3 separate regions of the Homo sapiens genome follow, and all the other regions are linked to region 3. Evidence: fine-mapped expression QTL. A gene starts in region 3. Each other region holds a variant in brackets. All regions are shown on one strand. Distances are from middle to middle.

Evidence for each region.
Region 1: its variant is fine-mapped to the expression of FNDC1 in testis (GTEx, PIP 0.97).
Region 2: its variant is fine-mapped to the expression of FNDC1 in tibial nerve (GTEx, PIP above 0.99).

Annotation. Positions count from the first base shown.
Region 1 is chr6:159,128,110-159,130,865 of GRCh38, reverse strand. No RefSeq gene overlaps it. Among named protein-coding and RNA genes, the nearest start is that of FNDC1, 40 kb to the left of the region's middle. The variant A/T (reference allele first, on the strand shown) is at 1,196.
Region 2 is chr6:159,435,185-159,437,940 of GRCh38, reverse strand. No RefSeq gene overlaps it. Among named protein-coding and RNA genes, the nearest start is that of LINC02529, 53 kb to the right of the region's middle. The variant A/G (reference allele first, on the strand shown) is at 1,311.
Region 3 is chr6:159,167,790-159,170,530 of GRCh38, reverse strand. It overlaps FNDC1 (fibronectin type III domain containing 1), which reads right to left and starts at 1,131. Exons shown (of 23, transcript NM_032532.3): 1 at 826-1,131. The coding sequence starts at 934. It overlaps FNDC1-AS1 (FNDC1 antisense RNA 1), which reads left to right and starts at 524. Exons shown (of 4, transcript NR_121668.1): 1 at 524-719; 2 at 1,770-1,998. RefSeq lists an enhancer at 1-276 and a silencer at 1,083-1,252.

The DNA of each region.
Region 1 (2,756 bases), 40 kb after region 3:
ACCTGTGGAAACACAGACTGCTGGGCCACCCCTTCTCTAGGATTCCCGGGTCTGGGGCGAGGCCTGCCAGGGTGCGTTCTTCACCAGGTCCCAGGTGGTGCTGACCTGGGAGTCCATAGGCCACATCTGGAGAAGCCCTGGCTTGTGGGAAGTCCCACGCCCTGTTCTAGCATCATTTTCTCATTCTCAGTCCATCTTTCACCTGGTTGAGGTACATCTTCAGGAAAGATTTTCAGGGCAGCCCCACCTCACAGCCCAGCGTGCAGCCTCTGCTCCCAGCCTCCGCTTTGGAGGGTGATGCTTGGCCTCTCTCTGGCTTCACTTCTTCCCACCAGCTGAGGAATCCGAAAGGCCAGAGAGGTGTGCCCACCACAGACCATGTGCCCCTCTGGTCCCCTCCTGACACCCAGGGCCCCGGAATTCCTGGCCACAGAGGCCCTAAGTCTGCTCTCAGGGTCCACATGGGCCTCCTGCCAGGTGTGTCTCTGGCGACTAATCAGGGCCGGACCTCCCACAGTGGAAGGGGCAGTTTCCTCAGAGACACACGCAGTGGCTTGGGAATGGAAGAACACCGGAACGGCATTGCTATTCTGTTAAGAAAGCGCTGATGGTGGGGCAGGGGCAGGTGAGGCACCGAGCCAGGCTGGGCACTGCTGTCAGGCGGCAGTAAGAGCAGGACCCAGCTCCACGCGATGCCACCTTGAGATGGCGCCACAGGTGACTGGCGTCCCCTTGTCCTGGAGCAGAGCTTCCACCAGGGCCTTCAAGTAATCATGAAAAATGAGAGGATATATTTTACTTAAGAGTGTATTACCTTGAAGTGTGATTTATCAACACCACTTAAGTACAGGTATGTAGATTACTATTTGTTCTCTTGCCCCAGGACCCAAAATGAATAGAATGAGCCACTAAGAGAATATTTCTGGACCCTTTGGTATTTGAAAAAGTCTTTCTAATGTCTTTACTCATGAAAGCACCATGGCTGGATATATAGCTCTTCACACAGAGCCTGAAAGCTCCTTAGACAAGCATTTCCCAAAATCACGCAGTGGGATCCAGGTCCCATAAATGCTCCAAGATAAAAGAGTTCGACAACCTTTTCTGGCAGGGGGAAAGGCAGTGTAGCTACGATTTGGTAAATAAAGCACTGTAACCGGAGTAAGACCCACCATCTGCCTTCCTCCAGAGGCCACAC[A/T]TACCTTACCATGAATCCAGAGGGAAATGGGTCTGTCCACGGTGTGTCCAGGAAAGCAGGAAGAAGGAAGGGAAAGCTGTATGCCAGATTCAAAGAGTCTATCTCTTTATTCATGTTGCAAGATTTTCTTTCATTTTAAAACTACCTTGTTCAATTGATATGTAATAACTCAATGGCCAGTTGTAATTCTGGATGTTTCCTGAAACAAGAAGCCATCAGGCTGTGTTGGCACAGAGGGGCGACCTTGCAGGGACTCGCCACCCACCCTGACTTCACCGTAACTTTTGATAGGATGACCCCCGTATGTGCCCAGCAGTCACCGAGGGCGTCCAGTGGACGTGGTCGGACGATTGTGAGCTCAGGCTGCCAGGCCAAGCGCACAGGCCGGGTAGAGACGGTTTAACGTGGTCCACAGCCACCACTTTGCAGCTCGAGGCCTCCCCCTCGTGTAGCCTGTTTGTAGTTTTCTACGACTGTTTCGTACAGCACGGGCTCCATGCGTCCCAACACCGCAGGAGCACACCCGCCACTGAGACGCGCGTGCGGGGCCAGTGCAGCGGTGTCCCGGGTCTCCTCGCACTCAGCTCCCTGCCGGTTCCGGCCACCGAGCACTCTTGTCGGGGAGGCCTCTGATGGGCCTGGGGAGGGCAGGGGGCTCATCCCCTGAGGGAGTGGCCTCTGCGTCACTGTGCCCTGCCTTTTGGCTTGGACTTCAGTCCTCCCTCAGGAGTAAAGAGCTCTTCATTACCAAAGGGGCTGTTGGTTCCGTGACCAGCACCGACAAGAGACAGCGGAACAGCCGAGCTGATGTCCCATCGCTCTGGGAATTCCTGACGCTTTTACTGTGAAGATGAAGCAACCGTAATAGCACGAAGATCGTGGGTCTGTGTGTCTGTGAAGAGAGTCCACCTGCTAGGAGCCGATGAACAATGAATGCCCTGCCCTGCTTGTGTTGCGCGTCGCCAGGCCCGCAGCTCACGTCCCAGAGGATTCCTTGATGTGAATTGGTTGTGCCACAGCAGCAGTTCTGGAAGGAAACTAGGAAGCTAGACTGTACTTTTTGTTTAACCACCATTCACCAAACCGATTTGGAATCTTCTTTTTGGTGCTAGCTGGGGAAGAATGCACACGTGCGGTCTGTTGTGATACGTTTGTGATGGTGCCTAGTGTGGCTCCCAAGAGCACTGCAAGCTCTCAGAAATGCTCTCCCAGGCCTTCAGAGGAGGGAGAGGTTCCTGGGGAAGGCAGGGAAGCCTGTTTCTGTCCTCACACCAGAGAAAGAAACCTAGGAGACAACTGAGACGTGAAATTCCCAGTTTAAGTCCGTTTTTCTTTATGAGGAGGGTCATTTGGAATGATAGCCTCGCTTCCTTCCGGTGGCTGCAGCTATGATATCTTTTCCTCCTGTTTTCTAATGTGTCACTGAGACAGGAAATAAAGCAGAAAGGGACTTGTGAAGCTCTGTCTCTCAGACGGGACCCTCCCCGCAGGAGGTTCACAGGGAGTGAATGAGAACGAGAACATCCCACAACGGTCCTGGTCAGGACGGTCTCCACATCCA
Region 2 (2,756 bases), 270 kb before region 3:
GAGTCATTCATACTTGGATTTGAATAAAGAAGTTGGAAGAGTCCTTAATATCTGGAAAATATTCAAATGTTTCCCTAAAGTTTTCAAAACTATTTTGCTCATGGATTGGGAGCTCACTCACAAATGGACCTCGGTGTTCACTTCCCATTGGTCTGCCTCCGCTAGTAGAGAAAATCGGGCTTGTGTGGCAGTAATTTGGCAAGTCAAGTCCTTCATTCTCACTTCCATGTTTGAAACATGGCTTCTCAGTTGTGCTGTGACTAAGACCCAGTTTGGGGAGTTTAATGGATTCTGGGCTTCATAGACAGGAATCCAATTCATCATTGAAAAGATGAAGTATACAATTGGGATGGATCAGGGAGAGAACTTTGATTACGTTCTATTTGAAATGTTTTTTTTTGTTTGTTTTTTGCTAAACTTGTTAAATAATAACCCTGCTGTTCCAGAGGAAGTGATACTTTACAAAAAGAAGATTCATCTCAAAAAAGTCAAATATAATTATACTTGAGGATTTGAAATTTCCTGATGGAAACAAATCTGTAGAGTAATTTTGGGAAATATGTGCATTTCTAGCTATAACCAGTGTTCCACTGGGTCTCTTAATGCAGGGGTCAAGACATCTGCAAAGTGTCTTCAGATAAGTCCTGGGATGGGTCTCCAGGGGGCTCTTGAGCAAGTCCACCCTGCACTGTGTGGCCCCAACATTTTCTCCCTCTTTTGCTCGGCAGTGGGGGCTCCCCTCCTGTGAAGCTCTCCAAGATGCCCTGCACTGATTCGGGTGCTCCGCAGCGAAGCCCCTTTTGCCAGGTGCCCCTGCCACTGCCCGGCTCCCCAGCTGCTTGGCTGCCATCTGCCTCCATTCCTGCTGCGGAGGCCTGGAATGCCCGGGATACTAGGGCCACTCTGCCTTCCATGCTGAAGAAGGAAGATGTCTCTGGTCCCTTTTGTCCCCAATATTTTACACATACAGAAGAATGTAAAGAATTATACGGTGGTTCACATAGCCACATCTAGATACATCGCAGCTGTTGGCCGTCAGCTCTCTTTCCTTTCCACATATCTGTGCAGCTACCCATCCATCCAGCTTATTGTTTTTAGACTTTTCAAAGTCAGCTGCAAACATCAGTGCCTTTGTTCCCACACATGTCATTAACTGGAGTCCAATATTTGTTGATGTTCTTTTGTGTTCCGTCAGCTGTACTGCCTTGAATGTTGATGTTTGGAGTTTTAAGAGAAAGAAGCTCATTCAGCTTCAACCATAACCCCTAAACCCCCGTTCCCACCTCCGTCTCTCCTCAGGAATCAGATGG[A/G]GGTGGTTCTGGGCCAGAGACAAATCTAAGGGAAAGAATTGCTGTTTCTCCTGCACGGCAGAGGAGCGGCTGCTGGGTAAGCAGCCCTTTCTGGCTGTCTCTCTCCAGGTGAGGTGAATCATCTCTCTGGAGGCTCCCTGAGCTCTCAGGTAAGCAGATTCTGAGCCCCTTCCCCACCGGCTTCAGACTCGAGGGTTCCCAGTGTCGCTGCAGCAGCTGCTCCTGCTGAGGTGTGCAGGGGAAGGGTTTTGAGAGGCTTCTCATCTGCAGAGCTGGTGTTAACAGGCAGACAAGCATTGCTCAGGATAATGCACAGGGGCTGGAATGGGAAGTGTCTGGCACTCAGAGGTGACCTGGAGGCCTTGAGGTGCACAGTTTGTCATCATCGTAATCAGAGCTGAGATGCACCAAGCACCTCCCAGCGCCAGACCCGGGCTGAGAGCTCACTGCGTGTGCCTAGCGTGCTCTTCATACCATCCTCGCTCTATCATTATCCCCTTTGCACAGATAAGACCTGTTGGTGACCATGATCTTGGCAGCTGTGATAAGAATATGTATAAACCCAGCCAGAGGAGCTGGTTAGGACAGATTTTTCTGGCAGAAAGTGGGGTTGGTGGTGTAAATTGTAGGTTTTCAGGTGCGGTGAAGCCAACAGATGAGACGATTGCCATTGTCACTCAGTTCCCGAGAGGAGGGTCACACTATGATGCTCAGGGCCCCATGCGGAAGCACCAGGGTTGGGCAGGTGGCAGAGAAGCTAGAGGAAACACAGGCAAGAGCCTCGGCCGAGGTTTCCGAGGGAAGAAACTGGGGAGATAGGATGAGCAGGCTTAGGACCGGCTAGTGTGAATAATTTCTGTTGGGTCTGGGGCATAGGGGCTGTTTCCAGTTGTCTGGCACCTGGCCCTGGGGTGATTACGGCAGGGGAATAGAGGCCCAGCATGGCAGAGCCTGCTAGAGGAGACAGGGTCTGCATGTGGGCTCTGGACTGTGTGGTTTGCACATGAAGGGCACACTCATGGGGGAGTCATTTGCTGTCTCTAGGACTTGACTAGCCCTGGGGGGAGCAGTCCCTCCAGTGTCAGTGAGGATCTAGGTGTCAAAATTTCAGAAACACGTGGTTAATACTGTGGGATGGGGCAGGAAGCACCTATCAGGTATATTTGAACATCTTCTCGCAGCCATGCAACCTTCAGCACCCTACGGCACCCACGTGGTTCCTCGTGAACTGTTAATCAGCACATTTCTGGCCATTTGGAGAATCTAAATGTGGAGTCCTTGAATGATACTCCAGAGCTTCATGGGGCCCAAGTGAGACTGTAAGGTCCTTCTTATGGCTCCCAGGGAAGTGGCCACTTTCCACTGCCTTTGGACTAGCCACCAGAGTCACTGTTGCTCTGCCCCTTGGCTTGCCTTGAAACGCTCTCTGAGATACTCGCACTTCTG
Region 3 (2,741 bases):
GTGGTAACAAGGGCCGCCAAAGGCTTAGGAATGAAAACCTCGCCACAAACTTGTCTCTCTCTGCAGGAAGCTTGCAAGAAATCTGACAGGAGCGCGCTAGCATTTTCTGAAAAGCATTGCTCTCAAAGGAAGCATCCATCCTGGCTGCAGCCTCAGCCATTGGGGAAGGGCGAGTTTCTCTGGAATCAGCTTTCTCATTTCCCTCTCCCTCCTCTCAAGACAAACATTTTCTCCCAGCTTGAACGTTCCCCCCGGGCGCGCGGGCCTCCTGCCGCCTGGAGCCGAGCTGGCACTGGAGCGCTTCTCCTCTGGAGCGCAGAGGCACCCGACGCCCTGCGGCAGCTCGCAGCCTTTCCCCCACGACCTTCTAGAACAGCCCTGCTCTGCCTCCCTCCGGTCTCCCGAGTGCGCCCGTCATCCTGCCTCGCGAGAGGTGAACGCGGAGAAAGTAGGATGACCACCTACGCTCCCGAGAAATTCTGGGCAAAGAAAGGCATTACCCCAGTCCGCACGCTGAAAGTCGCCTTTCTTTTCCTTTTTTCCCCGCTGTGCCTGAATCTCCCGGGACACTTAGACGGCTGGAGCCTCCCGACTCCAAGGCGGGCGACGGCAAAGTTAAACGCCAGCGCGCTGCGGTCCCCGGGCACCGAGGCGTCCCCGCTCCCGCCACCCACACAGGGCGCCAAGTGCCCCGACCCGCGAGTGACGAGGACGCACAGGCTAGTGACACGACCCGTAGCCAGCACTGAGCGGGACGACGGGGCCCGAGCGCAGGAGGGTGCGCGGGGAGCTGAGGAGCGCCGGGGGCCCGGGCGCGGCGCGTACCTGAGGCCGCCGCCGAGGAGGCGACGGGGAGCAGCGCGGCCAAGAGCAGCAGCGCCGCCCAGGACAGCCGGCGCGGCGCGCGCAGGGTCGCCCCGGCCTCGGGGGCCATCGAGAGCCCGGGGTGGGCCGGGGCTGGGTGCTTGCGGCTGGCAGGGGGGCGCTGGCCGGAGTCTGGGGAGTGCCGAGGCGCCGCCGTCGGGTCCCCGCCGCCGTCCGTCTGTTCTGCGCGCTCTGCGCGGTGCCCGCCGCGCCCCTGCCCCGCGGCGATCGCTCCCGGCCGCACACCGGCAGCCGCGCTCCGCCACTGAGGCCGCCGACCTCCCGCCGAGCCTTTTAGCTGCGCTCGGGCGCCCCCTGCCGGTGTGCGGGGCCGGGGCCAGGGCCGGCGGGGGCGACCCGGGCGACAGGGGCGACGGGGGCGGCGGGGCCCGGGCTGGAGGCGGGCGGGGCGCGGGACGAAGGGGCCGGAGCGCCCCGGACTGACTTAGCGGTTCTGAACTTGGGGCGGTCGCTGTGCCGGGCCAAGTGGCTGAGGAAGTTCCTCCCCTCGTCTAACCCTCTCATTTTCTGGCTGGGGAAGTCGCCCATCGCGCCGAGGAGTGCCCTTTGTCCCCTTACAGAAACACCTCTGCGCCCCAAGTGGGGACTCGGGCCGGGACCCCTCACCCGGTCCGCAGCGCTGTAGTTCCTGTGGCTAGCCCAGTCCTTCCACGTCCCTACCCGCACCCGGCGCGCCCACGTCAGGGGTTTTCAGCGTCCTTAGACCCTGCTCCGTCTGGCTGTCATTTCTAGGGCGCGCACGATGCGGGTCGAAAAGGAACCCAGTTTTCAGTGTGCCTTGTTGCCCAGGCCAAGGACTCAGCGGACCTCGCCTCTCCCTTTTCTGTAATTGTAACACTGCCCCAGGTCTCCCTATTCCTCCTTCTCCCTATTCCTCCTTCCAGCCTGGAAGCCTCGCGGCCCTCCAGATGGACTCGGAGCGCCCCTGGAGGCTACAGTGACCTAAGCTCTAGGAAGGCCGGGTCCTGGACGCCGCGTGCTGCTGTCCGCCGCCGACCGGTGTCCTCGCAGAGATAACCTGGCTGAACTCACCGCCCAGCGCTATGTCAGTTCTCCCTCATGACAACCCAAAACTTGACCGGATTTGTGTTCTGCAGAGAGGAAAAAAAAAAGGTAAATGAATTGCAAAGAGATGAAAACCAGAAATACAGTATCTCTTTGAATTTGAGCACCCAGGAAAGGTGTAAACCTACCGCCTTCCTTTCCAGGAAACTCTCCTGCTTCCCAGCAAAGGTTTTTGTTTGTTTGTTTTTCTTTTTCTTTTTGTTTTGAGACAGGGTCTCCCTCTGCCTCTGCCGCCCAGGCTGGAGTGCAGTGGTGCAGTCTTGGCTCACTGCAACCACCATATCCCAGGCTCAAGCCATTCTCCTGCCTCAGCCTCCTAAGTGGCTGGGACTACAGGTTTCAGCCACCATGCCCAGCTCATTTTTGTATGTTTTGTAGAGACAGGGTTTCCCCACGTTGCCCAGGCTGGTCTCCAACTCCTGAGCTCAAGCAATCCGCCCACCTTGGCCTCCCAAAGTGCTGGGATTACAGGCGTGAGCCACCACGCCCAGCCCAAACACACTTTCCTGCATTACTCCCTTATGTTATCATGTTTCCCCACATGCCATTTAATGGAGCTGTGTGGTTTCTGTCTCACCAGCAGCCACCCGGCTCTGCCTATTTTGGGGGAATGGTAGCTCCCTCCCCAACTCCAACCAAGTGACAGGCCCCCTCCTTACTCCCACTCCTTCCCAAAGCCCCACTTCCCCACTGGCTCAGGGCTCTGCAGTGGCCTAGACAGGGTCACTCAGAGTTGGGACTCTTCTAACACGGGCTGGTGGAAAGGTCTCTTTCTCCCATCATTCGTGGAT